3 separate regions of the Homo sapiens genome follow, and regions 2 and 3 are each reported to be linked to region 1. Evidence: microRNA targets listed by miRTarBase, many of them from high-throughput screens and not tested one by one. Region 1 holds a microRNA gene; each other region holds the end of a gene's coding sequence.

Region 1 (7,192 bases):
CACACATGCACACACAGAGTTCCAGATGCTACATTCCAGCTGCAGCACACTCCTTAGAGGAGAGCTGGGCTGGAGAGTGATTGAAGACTCAGGCACGAGAGCTGCCTGAGGGGAAAGGCAGATAAACAAAGAGAAGAGGGCATGCTGGCACAGGGGCTGGTGGCAGGGATACCAGTCATGTAGAGGTGGTGAGCAGATGGAAGCATAGAGGGCACAGGACAGTGGGCACGAGGATCCATCCTCACCAGGTAGTTGCCTCCATGTTTGGACTTGAGCATCTGCGCCACCTCACGGAGGTTGCTCCGGAAGTTCTCCTCATTGGCTGTGCTGGGGAAGGAGACAGCGATGATCCTCTCTGTGACGTACACCAGGTCCAGCTCACAGCTGTCCTCCATGGTCCGGCTCACACTCATGTTTCTAGGGAGACAGCAGGCAGCGGAGGGTCCATATCAGAATCCAGCCCACAGGGAAGGCCCCAGATAGCTGCACCCCATACACACCCTGTGTGACCCCCATATGCAGCCCAGGGTGCTTGGCTGCTCTTCAACCCAAGGCCAAGGCCACAGGCTTCCTCTGGCAAGGCCAATGTGGCCGGCTTGGGAGTGCCGGCGAGAACAAGCTGGGTAGGGCTGGCAAGGACCTCAGGCCATTTCAGAACCAAACTGTGATGACACCAATTCTTGGTTCCCATCAGTCCTTTGGCCACTGCCTTCAACCTGTGACTCCAGAGCTCAGAGCCAGGGCCAGACTGGCCCAGGAACCCAGGAGCTCTGGCTCCCAACACTGGCTGCCTGGCCAGGCAGAAGTCTCCCGAAAGGCCCCAGACTGCTCTGGAAGAGGAAGGAGAGCCTGCGCTGGGCGCTCTCCAGCCCTGGAACGGAGACTTCCCACTGCCCGCCCCTAGCTCTCGAGCTGTGGAGTGGGCGGGAAACCTCTCAGGGGAGGGGGCATCTCAGGTGACACGTTCACCTGGGTTCCAGGTAAGCCAGACCACAGCACACATTCCAGCCCTCCCGGAGGCAGGCCAACTCCTGCCCTTTGTTCCTTGGCCTTCTCCCCACCTCTGGCAGCTCCCACTGCCTGCCAGAGCTGCTTCTTGGCAGCAGCCTCCCTGATTTCTAAGGGCCCAGAAAACAAGAGGGCACAGAGCCCTTGTTGCTGCAGTGGCGGGCAGCCGCCAGCACCATGCGTTTCCCGGAGAGGTGGGGAGGCCCCTGGGCTGGCCATCCTCTCCACTGGGCACTGGGTGAGGAAGGGAGGGGCTCGCATCTTTACATCTCTCCCAACTTTTCTTCCAGAGGAAGGGTCCAGGATGCCCACTTGGGAAGCCCACCTCTTGCTTCTAGAAGCACCTCCCCCATCCCTCCAGCTTTTTCCCCAATCATTGACCTCCTAGTGTCTCGCTTCCCCCTCTATCAAATGCAGGCAGCACTGACATTTCATTCTGCTAACCTTTCACCACAGCGGGATAAAGTGGAGAGTGGAGGGCAGCGAAAGGAATACCACTGGGGTATTTAAAAGTGATGAGGGCTCTCTGGCACTAGACAGAACAAGCCCCCAGATGCTGAGAAGCCATGAGGAATCCAGACCTCCACCAGGGTTCAATCCCAGTCCAGGTGGGGTGTGGAGATGGGGCAGCCAAGGATGAGGCATGGCAGGACCTCTCTGTTGGGATGACAGGGGCCTGAGTGGGACTGGGGACCAGCACCCAGAGGTAAGGAGCCCGGTTTGAGTTTGACTCTGAGTCCCAGCTACTTCTTGTCCCTATGGAAAGCTTCTCATTGCAGCTGTGGGGGAGAAGTTTCTATCTCAAGCCAACTGCCTACCCAAGGACAGTTCTTGTAGGTGGTGACCAGTCTGGGACAAGAAGCCACACGCACACATACCTGCAAGCAAGTGGGTGTGAGGGCGGGGAGCCTCAGCTAACTTGCAGCATCCCCTCCTCCCCATCCTCCAAAACCCCTCTCTGTTCTGGCTCCAAGGAAGAAACTAGAATGTCAGAAAAACTCGCAAGACAAGCTCCTGTGATTTCAGCCTCTCCCTCAGCACAGGAAGGGGAGCAAGAGGGGCCGTGCTGGTGAGGGCCATGAGTCAGACGTGGCCCATCTGGGGCACTGACCCGCCCCTGTCTACAGGCTGGATCCCAGGAAGGACGCAAATGCAGAACAGTGCCACCAGCCGGACAGCCTCAGCATCACACTCTGCATCCACCTGCCCAGGTCTAAGGGAAGGAGGGGATCCTCTAAGGAGCCACCTCCAGTCTGTGGACAGCTGGCAGCTGGGCCAGAAACTTCCAGGGGCTTCAACTCTACTGCAGGGCTGGCATCCCCAATCATCTCAGGAGCCTCAGTGGGTGAAGGTGAGGCAGAGAGGGCAAAACAAACTCTCTGGATCGCCAGGACACAAAGTCCCTTGTGCATCCCCTTCCCCCGGCCCCTGCCAGCCCAGCCAGATAGGGAACTTCCCTTTCATAAATGACTCTGCCCAGTCAGAATCCTGTCTGCAGAGAGGAAGAGATCCAGCACAGGCCTCAATGCTCATCAGCCCTAAACGCAAATCCAAGTGCTGCCTCTTGGTGGCTGTGTGACCTTTACAAGTCACCTCATCTCTCTGAAATGCTGCTCTACCAAAGGGAATAAAATACGTACCTTGCGGGGTTGTTGCAAGGACTAGATGAGCTCATGCAGGTAAATAAAGACTCAGCTCAAGGGCTGGCTAAGAGCTCAAAACACAACTGTTGCCAACGGCATCCGCACGCATCCTCTCCTGTGCCTTTCACGTTTGCCCACACTCCCCACCCGTGGCTTTATGGCTGCAGTCCGGGGGACCCAGAGGCAAGACTTAACAGGGACACCCACAGTGACCCCCCTGCTTGCACTCCCGCCCCCTGCCCCCACGGGCCAGGCATACCTGATGGGCTGGAGGTGGGGCTGGACACTCGGGGTGACCCTGGTGGAGCCCTGGGAAGGAGAGAAGAGAAGCAGCATTATGCAGGGGTGGGCAGGATGGCAGGAGGAGCACACCAGAGAGCTGTCCACGGGGGCAAACATGATCCTCTTCTTTCCTTGCCAACATTCTGGCCCTGCCACCCTAACCCCTGCAAAAACACAGCCTGCCCGAAGCCAAAGCCATCAACACTGATTCCACGTGAGTGTGCCTGCCTGTGTGCAAGCCCCAGAGGGACAAAAGGAAGAATCCCGAATGCTGAGGAGTGCACCCCACTGGGCTGGTGCCATCCACACTGAGGGCACACTCAACAGTTACTGAATCAATGGAAACACACTTCACTTTGATACACTCGCCAACACAAGAGAAACCCCAGGAGGAGAATACGACTGCCACCACAAAAGGAGCGATGAGAGTAATGGCGCCCCTCTGTCTTGCCACCATCACCCCACACTTCTCTGCTTGAAAGCTGTAACATCAAGTCATTCAATTGAGTTTAGAGACCAGAACAGGCAGGTGGAGCATGCAGGAACCAAGACGAGGCCTAAGACAGTGAGCCATGCTCCTGAGGGCCCACTCCCCACTGTCTGTGGCAGACAGTAACCATCTCACCCACTCCCCTTTTCACAGCTGTCGAGTGGTACAAACTTAAGCAAATGGGCCCAATCCATCCCAGGGCAGCAGGATGGCATGGCGGGTGTGAAAGCACAGGGTCAGAGGCCCACAGACCACAGAGTTTGGATTCCAGGATCCTGCTGGGCAGCCCTGCCAGTTACTTAACCCCTCTGAGCCTCTTGTAATGTCACATGTAAAATGGGACAACCTTCAGGCTGGCAGTGAGGATCCAAAGGAGTTATGCATATAAGGCACTTCGCATCATGCCTGGTATTTACCAGATGACAGCTGTTGTTTTTGTTGTTACTTTTGTATCAAGAAAAATGAAAAGGGTAGTTACAACCAAACATTCACCTCTATAGAAAACCAACACCCTGCATCGCCTCTACCCATCCTTCCAGTCACCTCACAGGATGCAGAATTGGGAAGGCCAGTTTCTAGATTCTCAGACCTCCTGAGCCCATTGACACCTTCCAAACACCCATGTGCCTCTCAGAAAATGGTCTTTTCCTACCGCCAAGTTGCAGCCTCTTCTTTAAAGAGACAGGACCACAATCTGCCAAGAAAGGAAGAAACTGAGGCACAGAATAACTTACCCTCAAGTCCCTGGGAAGTTGACGGCCAGGCAGGATTCACACTCCAACCTGGGGCTTGACCACGGGGTCTCCAAGAAGAGGAGCCCCTGCACCCCTCTCCTGGCTCCGCAGTGCCTACGAGGCAGGATAGGTGGGTTCCGAGGTCCAGCTCCCAGCTGAGCCCCAAGTTAGAGCAGCTCTGCTAAGAGGGGGACCCTCCATCCAGCTGTCCGGAAGAAGGCTCTGCCCAGAGTCCCAGCTGCCTCGGACCAATGAGCAGCTCCTCAGCAGTGAAGGAGGGAAGAGCCAAGTGGGGCTACTGGGGGGAAGTTTCTAAGTCTCACAGCTCTTCTGGCCCTGAGGACTCCAGTTTGCATGAGTCAAGCTTGGGGGTGGGGGGATTAGACAGGGGTGGAGCTGGGAGTCAACGAGTGACTGTGTTTGGTTTTCAAGACCCAAACCAGGCTGTTCCAAAACTGCCCCCTCAGAGGAACACAGAAACCCAACAGTTCACCCATCTCCATTTCACTGGTCCCTAATGAGGAGTCCCTGAATCTCCCCAGGCCCTAGGCCCTGCTCCAGGCCCCAGGGCCACCCTGCTATAAATAGCCCCTTGAGTTTCATCTGTTGCTGATCCGTAGCCACTTTTGGAGGAAGCCACCACAGCTGCTTTGAACAACTGGAAGCCACAACGGTAGCCAAGACGTGAGGTGTGGCCAGGAGCATGGGACCAGACCCAGGGAGCTGGAGAAAGACAATGGGCCATATTGATATGGGCTTGGCAGGGGGAACTGGGGAACCAAGGGGGGCCGGGAGCCTGCAAAGGTGCAGGGGTAAGCAGGACAAGCAGGACAGGAGACCTGGCTCCCCTTTCCCCACCGCCCTCTTCCAAACATTACAACACTCCACATTCCTCAGCCTCCCCACCCCAAAAAAAGCCAGTGAAGATAAATAAAAACTTGGCCCAAACAGAGTCTGGCCAGGCCGCCTCCAGAGGTGATAAGGCAAAGTCCAAGCCCGCTCTGCTCCACCGGGCGGGGAGGGGAGGGGAGGCATGGGGAGGAAGCCACCCTGGACAGTGACCCCAGTGCAGAGGATGGGGGACGAACAGCTGGGACTGTCATCCCCTGATGAATCACTGGGCTGCCCTCTCACTGACGGGGCTTCCTGTTTTCTGCAAAGTTTGGGGGCACGTGACCCTTGCTGGCGGACAGCAGACATGCACGGTGACACGTCTGAGTGTCGGTACACACAGACAGACAGAACTCAGAGAACAACAAATGGGCTGGGGCAGGGGCACGGCATGTCAGCAAACACACCCTACTGCTCCAGAAACACAGGTGACCTCACACGAGGCTAGAGATGGTGCCTTTGGAAGCATGCCTCATCACGTAGGCTTTTTACAAGCACAGTGGGAGTAACACAAGGCATCCGGTCATCCCTGGGCCTCCAATCTTCATGCTCATTCTCTCATTCAGCAAACATCCACCGAGTGCCACCAGCTGTGTGCCCAGCCATGTTCTAGACACCAGGGGACAAAGGAAGTGAAGTCCCTGACCTCAGAGAGCTTATATTTTACAGACCATGATACTCATCACCATACCCAGTGTGAGGAGTAGAGGTTCCGTCTCATTTGTCCATCTGTAAAATGGGCACTGCACAGTGCTCACATAATCTTCTGCCTACTCCGCGTGGAGCCCCTAGGGAAAACGACTACAGGACTTTACAAACCTTATAAAAAGGAAAATAAGCTCTCTGCCTGCCTGTAATCCTATTCTTTTCCTCTCCGGGGATCACAAATCACCTTACCCAAATGGCTTTGAACTTCTTCCTGGCTCCTCTCAAGACACAGGTTGATTACAGAACTTTTCATCCAACTCTCTAAACACCAAACAGAACTCTCCCCATCCTTACCTCCAAAACACAATCCTTCCTTTGCTGAAAGGGCACCATGAAAGGAAATTCGACAGCCTCCCAGACAGAGTGTCTTACTTTTCTCACTGTCAGGAATTTCCTCCTGGTATCTAACCCTCATCCTTCCTGCTGCAGATTCAGCCAACTCTTTTTGCCTTGGTCCTCATTGCAGGCAAGAGTGGATCACCACTCAGACACTACTGGGTGGCTCAAGGTCTATGACCCCAGGTTCTGTTATCTGCTGCCTTCTTCCCCGTCATGAGGCAAGGAGCACGAACCTCCAGCCTTGGGTGGGGTTGGTTTGAAGCAATGCCTCTGTGGGAAGAGCCCTGCTTTCCTTTGAGGTCCACAGACCAAACACAACAGCTCAGGACCAAAAGAAAAGCCATTTCCTGAGCCCAGATCCCCAGAGGGGCACAGTTGGGAGGAGGGTCTGTAAGCGAACACCAGGGGCCTTGTCAGGCAGCCAGAGATTGGTGACCAACCTACGTCAGGGGCCCGGCCCCATTCCTACATCTCCTCTGGGGGCTGTGGCCAACCCCCACATAGCACCCCCTTCAGCCACACCCCTTCCCCTCTCCTTCCTGCCCACTAGCCTGGATTTTTCCAAAACAAAGTGCGACACAGCACACTATCCACAAACTCCACTACACACCAACTCGGCAGGAGGAAAACAGCCATTCCTGCCTGTGAGTCCTGGGCCGTGGGCCAGAGACAGCAACACAGCTTGACAAACAGCCACATTATCACAGCAGCAGGCCCAGGTCCTCCTCCCCCGGGGTGGACTGCTGGAGAGTCCCGTGGCTGGGCAGGGGACTGGCTCAATGACCCTGGAGCCAACCCAACCTGAGACAGGTGACAGGAGCCTTACAAATTAGGTTTTCTCTCCTCTTTTACAGTACACAGGCCGTTCTGGTAGCTGCTCACTTGCTTACCTTTCCAAAGCTCATTTTGTCTCTCCTCCCATAGCCAGACAAGACAGCACACTTACCCACCCCGACACACAGGCACAGACACATCCATCCCAGATCACCAATACTTTCTTCTAAAAAAAGCCAAAGAGCCTCAGTCACAACTAAACGGCCACCTCTTTCTTCCCTAGGACCAAGGTCGTGCACACTCTTGCAATCAAAAGTTCTTCG
Region 2 (7,192 bases), not on the chromosome of region 1:
CTGTTTCTGCAAACAAAGCTTCATCTCTGGTAAAGAGAGAAGTCTTGGTCTTCCCAGGGCTGCCCTGCCTTTGCAATCCCTTAGCCATAAAGAAACCTTTAAGAGTACATTTTAAAAGGACAGCCTGCAGCAATGATTTAATCCTGGGAAATCCCAGTGCTCTGAACTCCCCACTTTCCAAGCCTGAGGGCGAAATCCTTTCCCAACCAGTGTCTGACCTTCCCTATCCTCAGCCAGGACCCCTGCTTGGCATGCCTGTGATGTCATGAATTAGCTCTCAGTCTCCAGTGACTTGGACCGGGGAGACAGATAGGTGTGACCATGAATTGAGAGTCGGTGTTAGGGAGATCTTAGCTCTCTTGGTGCCACAGGACTCTGGCATCCTGATGCTTGGCTTTGGAAACAAGAGAGAATGACTGAAGAAAGAGGGAGGGGTGACTTTAAAAGGAGACCTTTACTACTCAAAAGGTAATCTTTGGGCCAGCAGCAACAACACCGTCTGGGAGATTGTTAGAAATTCAGAATCTCAGGCCCCAACCTAGACCTTGCGAATCAGAATCTGAATTTTAACGAGATCCCTGGGTAATTGTTATGGCAATAAAGGTTAGAAGTACCGACTCACAATTGTGCCTATTGTGGTGAAGATGGAGTAACTTCCCTGAATGACATTAAAAAGTTGCGTAGTTTGCTTGTTGATACTCCGTTGTTTTGGTAGTGGGGTAAGAGATGCATGGCAGCATCAAGAGAAGAGGGTAAGGGTCCTCACCCGCAGTCTTTCCAATATACCATTTCAGCCCAGTTCCCAGGGGAGACGGCCACATTCCTGCAGAAGGGGGTTCCCGGGGTCCGGGGAAATAAGCCTACCCTAAGCGAGTTTCGGAGACCCAGGGGACACTGGAGTATCCATGTGGAACCCCAGATTCAGCAACAGGCTGAGAAGGTCACTGTCGGAACAAGATGCACAGCCAAATGCCCTCTCCCCGTGCCCAAACACAACCCAACTCTCTCTCTGGCCAAGCTGGACGCCGTTAATGCTCTGTTTCTATTCTGTTGTCACCCTAGGATAGTCATTGCAACGTGACGCCCTTGTCCTTTCAGGTTCAGGCGCAGCTGCAGCTGGACAGCGCTGTGGCGCACGCGCACCACCACCTGCATCCGCACCTGGCCGCGCACGCGCCCTACATGATGTTCCCAGCACCGCCCTTCGGACTGCCGCTCGCCACGCTGGCCGCGGATTCGGCTTCCGCCGCCTCGGTAGTGGCGGCCGCAGCAGCCGCCAAGACCACCAGCAAGAACTCCAGCATCGCCGATCTCAGACTGAAAGCCAAAAAGCACGCCGCAGCCCTGGGTCTGTGACGCCAACGCCAGCACCAATGTCGCGCCTGTCCCGCGGCACTCAGCCTGCACGCCCTCCGCGCCCCGCTGCTTCTCCGTTACCCCTTTGAGACCTCGGGAGCCGGCCCTCTTCCCGCCTCACTGACCATCCCTCGTCCCCTATCGCATCTTGGACTCGGAAAGCCAGACTCCACGCAGGACCAGGGATCTCACGAGGCACGCAGGCTCCGTGGCTCCTGCCCGTTTTCCTACTCGAGGGCCTAGAATTGGGTTTTGTAGGAGCGGGTTTGGGGGAGTCTGGAGAGAGACTGGACAGGGGAGTGCTGGAACCGCGGAGTTTGGCTCACCGCAAAGCTGCAACGATGGACTCTTGCATAGAAAAAAAAATCTTGTTAACAATGAAAAAATGAGCAAACAAAAAAATCGAAAGACAAACGGGAGAGAAAAAGAGGAAGGGAACTTATTTCTTAACTGCTATTTGGCAGAAGCTGAAATTGGAGAACCAAGGAGCAAAAACAAATTTTAAAATTAAAGTATTTTATACATTTAAAAATATGGAAAAACAACCCAGACGATTCTCGAGAGACTGGGGGGAGTTACCAACTTAAATGTGTGTTTTTAAAAATGCGCTAAGAAGGCAAAGCAGAAAGAAGAGGTATACTTATTTAAAAAACTAAGATGAAAAAAGTGCGCAGCTGGGAAGTTCACAGGTTTTGAAACTGACCTTTTTCTGCGAAGTTCACGTTAACACGAGAAATTTGATGAGAGAGGCGGGCCTCCTTTTACGTTGAATCAGATGCTTTGAGTTTAAACCCACCATGTATGGAAGAGCAAGAAAAGAGAAAATATTAAAACGAGGAGAGAGAAAAATAATATTAACACAAAAAAATGCCACAGACAATGATTTCTCTGAGAAATTATTATGGCAAAACTGTCTGGACTGCTGACAGTAAATTCCGGTTTGCATGTTACTTGTATTCCATTGATGGTGTGTCTCCTCCCACCCCCTTATCTCCCATGCACTCACTCCATTTTCATCTTCACTATGAAAAACAATACCAAAAGTATCTGGAAATTGATATATATATATCCATATATATATATCATATATTTGCCATATATATATATATATATATATATATATATATATATATATATTTGCCCTGTCTTTGATCCTGGGGAACAAAAGAAAAAAGTCAGAAAGGGAAAAAATTACACTCATTGTCCTAAGAAGACAGAGGTGGGCAGAATATGTGGGGAAAGGAAAAAGAAAACAAGACCACCAAATGAAATAATGAAGGTACAGCGCCTCGCTGTGCCAGACACAGTAGGCGCTCAATCAGTATTAGTTCCCACCATTCCCCTTTTCTTGTGTTCCTTCTTGTTGGTTTCCTGAAGTCCTATTTGAAGACAGTGGTTTATTTCCCCCTCTCTATCCCGTCAAATTCACCTTAAATAACACCCAGCTAGATACAGGCACTAGGTTTGTGTAAGATATGTTGATACACACGAACAAAGTTTATTTTGACTATAATGTGTGGACTGACTTTCAACATTTGCATTTTATCTCACAAAGGTGTATCTATTCAAGTAACCTTTTTTTTTTGTTTGTTTGTTTCTTTTTTGTTTTTTTTTTTCTTTTGGTTGTTTGTTTCAATTCATGTAGCTATTTAAACTGGGATACCTTGGACTAAGCCAGTCTGTATCCCAATTCGCTAGCAAGCCTAAGTTTGTGGGGTTTTGTTTTTGTTTTTGTTTTACCTTCTAATTTACAAGAAAGAGGAAAAGCTCTTCTAACTGAACTTTGGTATGCGGTTGAGCTTTGTAACTATTTGTTCTCCATGAAAACAAAATTATTTATATTTGACATATTTTTTTCTAGTGTATTAAGTTATTTTAAACAAAAGATGTTATCTCATGACGTGTTGTCAGTACAAAATGTGTCGCCTCCAATTCTGTTAAACCTTTTAAATAAGTGCCAAGTTATTAATTGAAGACACTTTGCGATCAATTGAATGAAAATATCGTTTCATTTGATGGGGTTCGAGTCATCTTTGTTCCTGTTACTATTAAAATATCCGGGATAGTCTTTCCCTTTTGATTAATGCGTATCACTCTCTCGAATATACCAACTTGGAAAAGCGCTTGCCTCTGCTCTTACGTGCCGCAGTCAAGGGGCAGTAAGAAGGGTGGCTCTGTGGCTGTCGTTAGCGCTGAGCGCATTTCCGCCGGCCCCCTCCATTTTATCCACCCAGCATAGAAACAGGGTTATACCAAATTAATGAAAGAACAGATAAGAAGTAAAATAACATAGGATAGAGTAACTTCCTTCCCCAAGATGGACTCTCGTTATTCGTTTTGCTATAATTCCAGTCTTTATCTGGGGACACTTTTGGGAGGAAGGAAGGAGGGATCCTGCGGAGCGAAATCAACCTGGGTTTGGTATGGCATAATCGACAATCAGTCCCAGTTCGTTGACCCTCTCTGGAGCGGGGCAGGTGCTGACTTCGGAGCGGGAAAAGAGCCGCAAAGGCGGGCAGGCCAGGGCACTGTGGAGGGAGGATTCCCCATCTGACACTCCTGTTTAGGGTTGGCTGAAGCAGCTTCTTCATTGGTTAAATTTAGAAGGTGGAAGCCAGAATCGGGTTTAGGAAAAGCCTGGCCTTGAAAATAATGAGGAGCTCTCTCTCCCCATGTCGTGGCCCCCTTCTGGAAGAAATCCCACTAGTAAAGCCCAAAGGTGCTGCCTGTGTGGGGATAGTTGGAGACTTTGAAGACTCGGCCCTGACCATGTCCAAGGCAGGAACTTTCCTTCCCGCGCGGGCTCTTGTGATGACGGGACCTTCCGCAAAGACTGAAAGAGTCCTGAGCGTCCCCTGGGACCCCCCACCCTCGTGCTGGAGGGTGCGTAAAACCCCTGCCAAAGCCCCACATCCTCCAGCAGTGTTCCCCACCACCCCCACTTGGCCCTCTCCCAGGTCTTAGCTCGTATTCAAAGCTGTTCCTCAGCATAGACGTGGGCGATAGGTTTCTTTCTTTTAACTTTCAAAGACCACTGAACAGGATTTGGGCCGTATTCAGTGCGCAGGCCTTGCGGGTCTCCTGGTTGATGAACGTCGGTAGTTTTTAATAATAAACATCTGCCTGCGGGCATGGTACGCCCTGAAGCAGCCAGGCCATCCGCCGTGGTCCTGTGGCCTCCAGCGAGCTCCAGTCGGCGCCGGGGCCGGGGGTCCTAACAGGCAGGCTCCAAGCTCCAAACCCTAATCCTAACCCAGATCCCAACACGGGTTCGGACCCTGGAGACCCTGGAGCAGGGGAGATGGTGGCTCCCTCTCGGGGCCAGTCTGCCCCAAGCAGCGGAGCGCGGGGGAAGCCCGAGGTCAAAGGAGGCGGTGCGTCCAGGCCCTGCTGGCGGAGGCGCCGGGTATCGGTACAGAGGCTCAGTGACGCGGCGTGGGTGGGTCGGGAATGTCCCGTGCGATAGGAGCCAGGTGGGTTCGGCGCGGAGACCCGCGGGAGTCGGGCCGCGGCGGGAGCGCGGTAGGCGGAGAGGCCCGCGGAGGCAGCCAGGTCCGGCGAGAAAGGCCAAAATTTCTTGGCCCCATTCGCAGTGCTCCACTCGGGCACGGCCTGTGGGACCAGTGCATCCGGGGAGCTCGCGGCGCCCTTGCCTCCTCTTGCGTCTGCTCCCCCAAGACTAACGGAGGACAGAGGCCGCTTTCCTTGGCCCTGTGGAGTCTCGCCCTTCGGGTCCAGACTCCCGCAAGGCCTGCTCTCCCGGAATGCCAGTGTCCAAACTCTGGGGCAGGCGCCTCGGTGTGTGAACAAGAGTTCCAAACTCGTAGTTCCCCGAACCATCCCAAGAAGGGGTCTGAGGAATTCACTTTAAATTTAAATAAGGCCCAACATGCTTGTAGTTTGGGTCGAAACTCAATAATCCTAATATAATTAATAAAGGACACCCCCATCCTCTGCTCCCCAAATCTTTTGGGCATGCAAAACCTTCCCGAGTTGCAAAATCAATGACTGGGAAAAACTGAGTTAAAAGAGATTGTTTAAGACATCATTAGTGTTAAGGACCCTATGATACAAGAGACACAGTAAGATAGTAAGATCGGTGCCTTTGCTTGGAGCTGAACTGATGTACATCTATTTTGAGTTTTTCCCCAGATTTATAACTTTTTTGGGTCCTCAGATGGTAATACTTTAGTATAATGCAATGCTCAAATTTCGGAACTATTTTGATTTCTGAAAAATGCCTCTTTGGCTTCAGCGACATAGGATCCTGTTTTTTCTTCACAAATCAGTTTACATCATAAATTGCAAACATTTGCAATAAGATCTCAAGATTGTTTATTTTACATAACCTCAAGCACTTGACTATGTTAAACACCAGTACAGAAAATCTGTGAAATCAGTTTAATGTGTGTGAGGGAATTAAAGGATCACTCATTTTCATCACATAAACAAAGCATTTAAGATTGTTTTGATTGTCAGTCTCCCAATTTTTAGTCATACAACTGACTATTAATTTAAGAGTCATTCTGTGTAAAAATAATTACTGAGGTTATATCCTGCTTTAATTAAATATTTCTGGGCAGAAGAAAATGGTATTGTACATTGGGAAGTGGGGGATTGTTTTTAATATTATATTATTTTAGTTCAAACGGAAATAAAAGTCTGCAAATTCCAACGGGGAAAAAAGGCCTGAAATGGTTTCTTAATATGCCATTAAAACAGTTAGCCAAAATACATTAAAGCAATATCACAAACCCAGAAATAATAAATATGTCATTCTAATGAGAATGTTAACTTACAGATAATTTATTCAAGGTAGTTTTTACATTTCACATGGAATGTCTTATTATGACCCGCTTGATTACTGTGATGCTTGTTCTTCAAAATCTAATTTATATAGGCCTGCAATATACATAATTCATAACTCCTGTTGATATACGTATACACACCCCAAATTTTAAATCTTTACAGTATGTTTGGATGTTTACTAGCATGTTTTCAAGATGACGAAAATAAAAACATAAAAAGTGTTAAACATCATATTGAAAGCAAGTGCTTGCCCTGCCCTATGCCTGAAGGCAAAGTAGCTGAAAATGAAAAAATTAAAAAGGATTAGATAATTTTCAAGCTCAGGCATTGAGTGAGCACTGAAATATTTCAGACAAAAAAAAATCTTGTATAAGAAATCTGAAAATCCCAAGAAAGACTTACAGATGTGAGTGTATAACACTTCTGATGCCTAGACAATTTTTTTTTTGGTGTCTAATTCATGAAACAAAAAATCCTCGAGTCTCGGGGTATTTTGTTTTGGGTATTTTACATGTCAGTCAAGGTAACCATTACATATGCCTTCGGTGCAGGAAAGTTTAGTATAATACGCGGAGTTCTATTGGCATGAGGAAAGGTTTTAGAATATAATCAAATACATCAAATAGGGAGGAGTAAACATGCTTCTTTTCTTGCTGAACAACTCCTCATATGTCCTGAGTAAGGATCTTTGTAGACTCTTATTCAAGCAGAATAGTGTATGTTTAAGAGCACACACTGTGGAGCTATGCTTCACTGCTGGATTCAAATTTCACTGCTACTGTTTACCAGTCCTCTGATTTTGGACAAGTTAATCTCTCTGTCCCTCAGTTTCCTTATCTGTAAAATGTGGATAAAAATAGTGTCTATCTCATGGAATGGTTAGGAGGATTAAATGAGTTAATATTTGTAAAACCCTTAGAACAATGCCTTGCATATGTATACTAAGTACTAAATAATAATTACTTTTATTAAAAGGCCAATAGACATTGACCTTTGTAATAAAAACCTTAAAAGAAAAAAACAATAA
Region 3 (7,192 bases), not on the chromosome of region 1:
CTGCACTCAAGCCTGGGTGACAGAGTAAGACCCAGTCTCCAAAACAAAAACCAACAAACAACAAATAATGGCTGACCGTTGAAAATTTATACTGTTTCCTAGATGACAGTGCTCTAACACAAAATGTCTTTCCTGAGCTGGTGCCTTAGTTACACTAACCTTGAAGAGGGCAGTCCAACCTTCGGCTTTAGAGTAAAAACCAGTGGATCCCATTGTCATGTGTTCTTTGTCACATTTTCTTTGCTTCTGAGACATTATTCATGATTCCATATAGCAAAGCAAGTGTGTGTTGGGTTTATTTCAGGGGTGTCTATCCTGTTCTTTTTAACTATTTGTCAATTCTTATACCAATAGCATAAGGTCTTAATGACCTTTATAATAAGTCTTGATTTTTGGTAGAAAAAACTCTCTCTTCTTGTTCTTGTTCATTGGCTATGCTTCACCTGTTGCATTTCCATTAAGTTTCCATGCATTTCCATGTAAGTTTTAGAATCATTTTGTCAATTCTATAAAAACTCTGTTGGGCTTTTAAATGAGATTGCATCAAATCTCATTTTGCAGGGATTGACGTGTTCACAACATGTATTCTAACTCAAAAGCATAATATTTTCCTACTTTTATTTGGGGTTTAATTTCTCTCAACTATGTTTAATAGGTTTCTTTATAGAAGTCTTGCACACCTTATATTGCATTTATTCTGCAGTGTTTGACATTTGTGCTCTTAAATTGTTTTTTTTTTTTTTTTTCTGAGATGGAGTCTTGCTCTGTCCCCAGGCTGGAGTGCAGAGGTGCGATCTCGGCTCACTGCAAGCTCCGCCTCCCGGGTTCACGCCATTCTCCTGCCTCAGCCTCCCCAGTAGCTGGGACTACAGGCACCCGCCACCACACCTGGCTAATTTTTTCTATTTTTTAGTAGAGATGGGGTTTCACCATGTTAGCCAGGATGGTCTCCATCTCCGGACCTCGTGATCCGCCCGCCTCGGCCTCCCAAAGTACTAGGGTTACAGGCGTGGGCCACCGTGCCCAGCCTAAATTGGTATTCTTAAAAATTTAAAACTTCTGGCAACATATAGATGTTCAACTGATTTTTATGTACTGACTTTGAAAACTTAGTTACCTTATTATTTCTAATAACTTACCGGTAAATTCTGTTGCATAATCTAAATACAAAGTGTTACCTGTGAATAAAGACTGTTGAATTTCTTCCTTTTCCAATCCTCATAATTTATTTTTCTTGTTTCTCTGTATTGACTAGGATCTCTACCACAATATTCAGTGGTGGTAAGAGACATCTTTATCTGTTTCTTAATCTGCAAGGAAAAACATTTAACATTTTACCATTAAATATGATTTATATTGTTCTTGCTTTTAAATATTTTCTTCCTTGCAAATTTTATTTCAGACATGTTGACTACAGCTCTGTGGGAAACCCTGAGGCACAGTACTCAACAAGACATACCTGAACCCCTGATCCACAGAAACTGTTAGAAAATGTTCTGCTGTAAGCTGCCAAATTTGGGGTTAATTTGTTACACAGCAATAAAGAGCTAATGCAGAAGGGATGTGTAATCCTCCATCGAAGTCCTATCTAAGTTGATTGTAGCTTAGCGTAGCAGAAAAGGCATGGGTTTTGAATCAGATATACCAAGAATTCCATTTCTACTATGTATTAATTTAACATTACTCAGCCTCAGTTTTCTTAACTATAAAATGGAGATAATCACACCTGCCTCTTAGAGGTGCTGTAATTATATGTGATAGAGTGAAATTTTCTATACGTCTGGTACCCAGTGAGTACGTAAATGCAGTTATGCAGTTCCTGTCCTTCCCTTCTTCTTTTTTTTTTTTTTTTTTTTTTTTTTGACAGAGTCTTGCTCTGTTGCCCAGGCTGGAGTGCAGTGACGTGATTCTTGGCTCACTGCAACCTCCGCCTCCTTGGTTCAAGTGATTCTCGTGCCTCGGCCTCCTGAGTAGCTGGGACTACAGGCACGTGCCACCACGCCCAGCTAATTTTTTGTATTTTTAGTAGAGAGGGGCTTTCACCATGTTGCCAGGATGGTCTTGAACTCCTGGGCTCAGGTAATCCACCTGCCTTGGCCTCCCAAAGTGTTGGGATTACAGGCGTGAGCCACCGCACCTGGCTCTTCCCTGCTCTTTAAAAAGCCATCTGTCCACCATCCCCTTTATGTATGCTGATCATATTTCCTAGGTAACCTCAGAATATATCATGGAGCAATGGGATAGAATGTTTGACATAGAATCTTGGAATTCAGGACATCTAGTCGTCAGACTTGTACTACCCCTTCTTTATTATTTTTTTGACAGGGATTAAAACTGCCTATGCTAAATATCTGGATTCTTTACCTCCTCCCTGGTTGGGCCACTGTTGTATGTTAAGAGTTAGACACTTCATGTCGTGAGCAGTTGAGCCAGCCATGTGGGATCAATTTCACTGTGAACCCACAGGACTCCAAACCATGCCTTTTTTGTTGTTGCTATTCAAAGTGAATGCTGAGATGTAAGGTCATCTCCCACTGCCTGTGTCTGCTATGGATGTGAGCTGCAATGTGACAGGAGGCCCCCAAGATTAGAAGGCAGCCTGGCAAGGCAGGACGGTCAGAAGATGGGGCTGAAACTCCAACTCACTTCTTGGCTATAGGTTCCTTGGCACGTCATTTTCTCTGTTTTTTTTTTTTTTTTTCCACTTGTAAAATGGGAGTAAGAATACCTCTCTGGCATCATTTTGCATTATACTGAGTATTTGGGAAAGCATTTGGAAATTAGTAGGTACTCAATACATTAAAAAAAAATCCTTTTCATGCCAAGGGATCGACTTAGGGGGCTGGCTGGACACTGATGTTGCTTGCCACTCAATGTGTGGTCCAGGCACTAGAGCACTGGTATTGCCTAGGAGTTTGTTAGAAATTGAGGATCCACTAGATCCCTGGTGATTCATAAAGTCTGAGAGGATCTGAAATTCTACAGTTCTAACAAGCTCCACAGGAGTGGCAAGAAGACCTGAGAAACTGAGAAGATGTGGGATATTGATGGCATACTAGCCAAGATGGGTTTGCAAAGGTTTGGGGTTTTCCCTGCATTTGCTGCATCCAGATAAGACTGACTTGCTCTTAGCATGAAATAAAACTCCTATGAGGACTTGCTCTAGCACAGACAAGCCAAACCACTAATCTGAATAAATAAGCATCAATTTTATTGAATCATGAATAATTTAAGACTGGTACAATCATCAGCTTTATTCTCTATGACATGGGGCATGATGTCCAGCAGATCATTGGCAAATCCAAAAACCTCATGACAAATGAAAATTAAATAGGTAGGAAGAGAGAGAGAGGAGGGGAGGAGGAAGGGGAGGGAGGATGGAAACATACCGTACACAAAATACTCAATTCCTAGTTTTCTCTTTAAAAATGGCTAGAAAAAATTCATCAAAATGCAGCACTTTAATCAATTATTTACAATTTCTATGTTACAATGAAAAAATGTACATCTTATAGAACATATTTCATAAAACTGCTCCACTGGAAACAACTAGATCAAAACAGCAAACCTTCCATTTAATATCCACAAAGTTGGATTATTTTTCCTTTTTGAAGTAGATTCGCCACAATCAAATTTGAATACAGAGAATTTTGAAGTTTAAGCATCAAACAACAAAGTAAAAGTCCCCAAGATACAACAAAGATCTAGGCAAGTCTTGTTCCTGTCCCACTCCCACCCCACCCCTAATGAAACTTAAAAGGTATTCCCATTTCAATTATGGCCTGTATCATTCTTGGCAGTTTGGGAAGAGAACTTTTGGCTTCCATTGGTAACTCAACATAAATGTTGCATAGAATTTATATATTTCAAAATTGGCCTAACTGTAGAAAAGGCAAAATGGAAGCATTTCCGATAGAGCCCTAAATGAGTACAAAGTCACTTTGTAAAAGGTGAGTGACACTAAAGTAAAAATATGACCAAAATAAGAAATGTGCATATTAGACAACCCTGCTTCCCGAAACTTTAGGAAGGACACGGAGTTGTGAGTCACACAAGGGCTATGCTACTTGAAGTCAATGTTCACCAATCAGGCAGCACTAGGTACAGAAGTCTTGGTTCTGAACCTGGACCCAGGAGGGAAGTCTGTGGGAAAGGGGAGAAGAGAATGACAAGAGAGGATGTCATATTAAAAAAAGGTTTCAAACAATATTGGCAGGTGTCTACTCACAAGGTGATTGGAAAACTGCCCACGAGGAGAAGTCAACTTTACCTCCTCCCAAATTCACAGTACGCGAGTGTAGTAGGGTCATTGCTGGGAGATAAATTGTCTGAGGAGGGCCACCCTTCAGGTTTACCAGAAATCTTAGGGTTTGGCCCCCCTGGTCACAGGCTAAATATATGGTTTAAAAGTTTTATTAAAAAGAAAAACAGAACAAGACACACTCACACCCAGATGACTAATGAAGGCTAAGCAGAATAGTCTGAGTTTGCTGAGACTAAAGCAGGGATAGTGTTGAAAAGTTTTCCTTTCACTAGTGGGACACATTCCCCTTTTCTTTTCAAAGAGGAAGAACATGGTGTCATCCAATGTGAAGTGAGCAGTTTCGGGTCAAACTCTTATGGTAAGAAACTAAAAAAAGATGCCAAGAGACAAACCTTCAGAAATAGAAGAAATGCAAAAGATGGAATAAAAACCCTGATCATTAAAACAGAGACACCTTCACTGGTGTCCAATAAGGATTCTCTTTACAAAACAGAAACAAACAACTCAAAAATTTACCATACTTTGTAATGAAAATACCAGTATGTTGAAGACACAGCAGACTGGGTTTCTATTAGAACAAGTATCAGCAAGGTCATGTAGACTTGTAGAAACTTTTGCCTTCTCCTGCACCAGACAGATCATTGTCCAGTTGGGTTGTCAGCTGGAGACCGAAAAGAACCTAAAAAATGGATCTTTTTTTTTTTCTTTTTCCCATGGTCACGCATCCACACAAATGAGTCTTTTGGATGAGAAAAGTCACAGCAACTTGAGTTCTCCTAATGAACAGATGACTTTTTAGCCCTGTTTGTTTCAATGGGGAAAACAATGACAAAAAAAACAAACCCCAGGCAGGCACGACACTTATGTAAAATGAACACAGTTAGTACAAAACCAGTAAGGCATCACTTTGGGAAGGTCAGCACCGAAGAGGTCAGGCAAGGCTCGTCCAGACGGGGCTTCTGGGAGGGAGTGACCCTCACCCTTATTGAGCTGCGTCATGTTGGTTCTGAGGAAAGTGCAAGTCTTTTGCAGGGTGACCGCATCACCCCACCGGAAGCTGGGGCGGGGACGCTGGAGGTGTTGGTGTGTGTTCTAAACCCTCAAGGACGAGAAGGGAAGGCAAGGTCCATGGCTCACCCACATGTCGAGGACCAGGTCCTCATCCATTTTAAAGGACACAGATACCCCCAGCCCTAGCAGGAGGAGGCGAGTGTGTAGGACTGTGAGGATGGACAACTAAAAACCAAAACTGAGCAGGACCAAACCAAAACTCAACTCCTGCGGTTCTTACTTTCACCAAAGGATTGATTCTGACCAAGAGGGGAAGGGGGAAAAAAAAATCTTCAAAAATCAATGCATCAGAAAGGAAGAAACTCAACCTCATTTTCAAAAGGTAACCTGTTCTCCAAAGTAGAACAAGTCTCACTATACACAGTGTTTGCAGAAAAAAAAAAAAAAAAACCTGATTCATTCATATATCAGAAGGAAAGAGACACATGCTGTTCTGCACTGACAGCCACATCCACTCGCTCACACTCTCACTCCGTCACTCACTCTCACGGATATTAATCAGAGGCTGATGGACCTGAATGGGGTGGTTTGATTGGAACAGGCAAAATACCTCTCGGGTAAGGAAAGCACCATTTAAAAAACATGAAAGCACGGTTTATTTGCTCCTAAGGTTTCCCTGTGTCGTAGCTCTGTAGTGCGTTGAACGTGACCAAAGCAAGCACCCTGGTTAGCACCAGTTCTCCCTGTGGCCGGCTGTGTGGGAGGGTGGGTGGCACGGCTCTGAGACCCAGTCTGGAGGGTCTGTGCTGAGGGGAAGCCGTGCTTCTCTGTGTTTCCGACTTTGCTCCAGTCTCTTCTGTCTCTGGGAAGCTCATGGCAGGATGCTGTTTGGTTTCAGAGCTTCATGTGGGTTCTCTTTTTTTTTTTCTCTCTGTCTCTCTTTTCATTTCAACGGCGATGATCCTTTCCCGAGAAGTATCTTCAGTGTCTTAGGGAGGTCACAGCAACAAGGCAAAACAATAATTAAAGTACAACAGAAGGTAGTGCAGTTCTCGCTGTGGAAGGAAGCGGTCCGCAGGCAGCTGGCCCGGGATGCCTGCACCCAGGTCGAGGCTGAAGGACGGGGGGTCTCGGTGTTCCCGCAGCTCTAAGGCTGTGGCTGGGGGCTGGCTCAGGAAGTCATCTTCAGGGTGATGTGGGGGATGCAGGTGGAATGCGGTGAGGAGAAGAGGAGGGCGCTGGGCTCCGGGCCCCTGTCACAGAGTGGACTCCAAAGAGGAGTCCAAGATGTCATCGTGATGGCTGTTGCTGTTGGAGTCGCTGTCATAGCTCTGGGGGCTGGAGTAGTTGGCTGCCTCCTGCAGCCTCATCAGCATGTTCATCTAGGGGAAGAGTGGAGAAGCATGAGCTGCTTTCTGTCTAGTTGGCCGCCCACCCTGGACTCCTAAAAGGTCATGCCACCTCCTCCAGACTCACCTGGGATAACAGCCCACAGTGGAGGCAGTGGACAAGAACATGGACTTTGGGCCAGGCTTCTAGGGTTCAAATCCCAGCTTCACCAATTACTAGCTGCATGACTTTGAACACATTACTTAACCTCTTTATACTTGTTTCTTTACTGGTCAAATGTGAATAATAATAGTACCTGCCCTATAATGTTATGGGTGGATTGAGTTAATATACGTAGAGCACTGAAAACAAAATGATGATCTCTATACATAGCTTATTTATTTTTTATTTAGGAGGGGCACACCTTTCAGGCCTAGCCCTCGGCCTGGATGAAGGTGTGGCTGAGCATCCCTGTTCCTGGAACTTGGCATCAGCATCACTGACATCGGAAGCACATGGACCCCCTCCCACTTCAACAAGCATCAAACCCATCTCTTCTCCTTGCTCTGGCCAGGTCAGACTGGAGCC

Evidence for each region. The annotated mature microRNA hsa-miR-6809-3p reads CUUCUCUUCUCUCCUUCCCAG and lies in region 1 at 2,961-2,981, opposite strand. An mRNA with a match to its seed (bases 2 to 7 or 8) in the 3' UTR can be bound and repressed. Matches are read on the target gene's strand: a 7mer-m8 pairs with bases 2 to 8, a 7mer-A1 pairs with bases 2 to 7 and ends in A, and an 8mer does both.
Region 2: the mRNA of SHOX2 is a reported target of hsa-miR-6809-3p. Seed matches in the 3' UTR shown: 7mer-A1 at 1,775-1,781, 8mer at 2,173-2,180 and 7mer-A1 at 2,197-2,203.
Region 3: the mRNA of NAV2 is a reported target of hsa-miR-6809-3p. Seed matches in the 3' UTR shown: 7mer-A1 at 6,200-6,206, 7mer-m8 at 6,187-6,193, 7mer-m8 at 4,741-4,747 and 8mer at 3,416-3,423.

Annotation. Positions count from the first base shown.
Region 1 is chr2:217,897,553-217,904,744 of GRCh38, forward strand. MIR6809 (microRNA 6809) reads right to left here and starts at 3,076; the gene lies at 2,961-3,076. TNS1 (tensin 1) reads right to left here. Exons shown (of 33, transcript NM_001387777.1): 7 at 2,911-2,960; 8 at 246-417.
Region 2 is chr3:158,092,191-158,099,382 of GRCh38, reverse strand. It overlaps SHOX2 (SHOX homeobox 2), which reads left to right. Exons shown (of 5, transcript NM_001163678.2): 5 at 1,099-3,478. The coding sequence ends at 1,356. Among named protein-coding and RNA genes, the nearest start is that of SHOX2, 11 kb to the left of the region's middle. RefSeq lists an enhancer at 1,216-1,385.
Region 3 is chr11:20,117,598-20,124,789 of GRCh38, reverse strand. It overlaps NAV2 (neuron navigator 2), which reads right to left. Exons shown (of 38, transcript NM_145117.5): 38 at 3,189-6,657. The coding sequence ends at 6,532. It overlaps LOC107984418 (a long non-coding RNA gene), which reads left to right. Exons shown (of 3, transcript XR_001748477.2): 3 at 7,018-7,192. It overlaps LOC124902643 (a long non-coding RNA gene), which reads right to left and starts at 1,850. Exons shown (of 3, transcript XR_007062615.1): 1 at 1,179-1,850.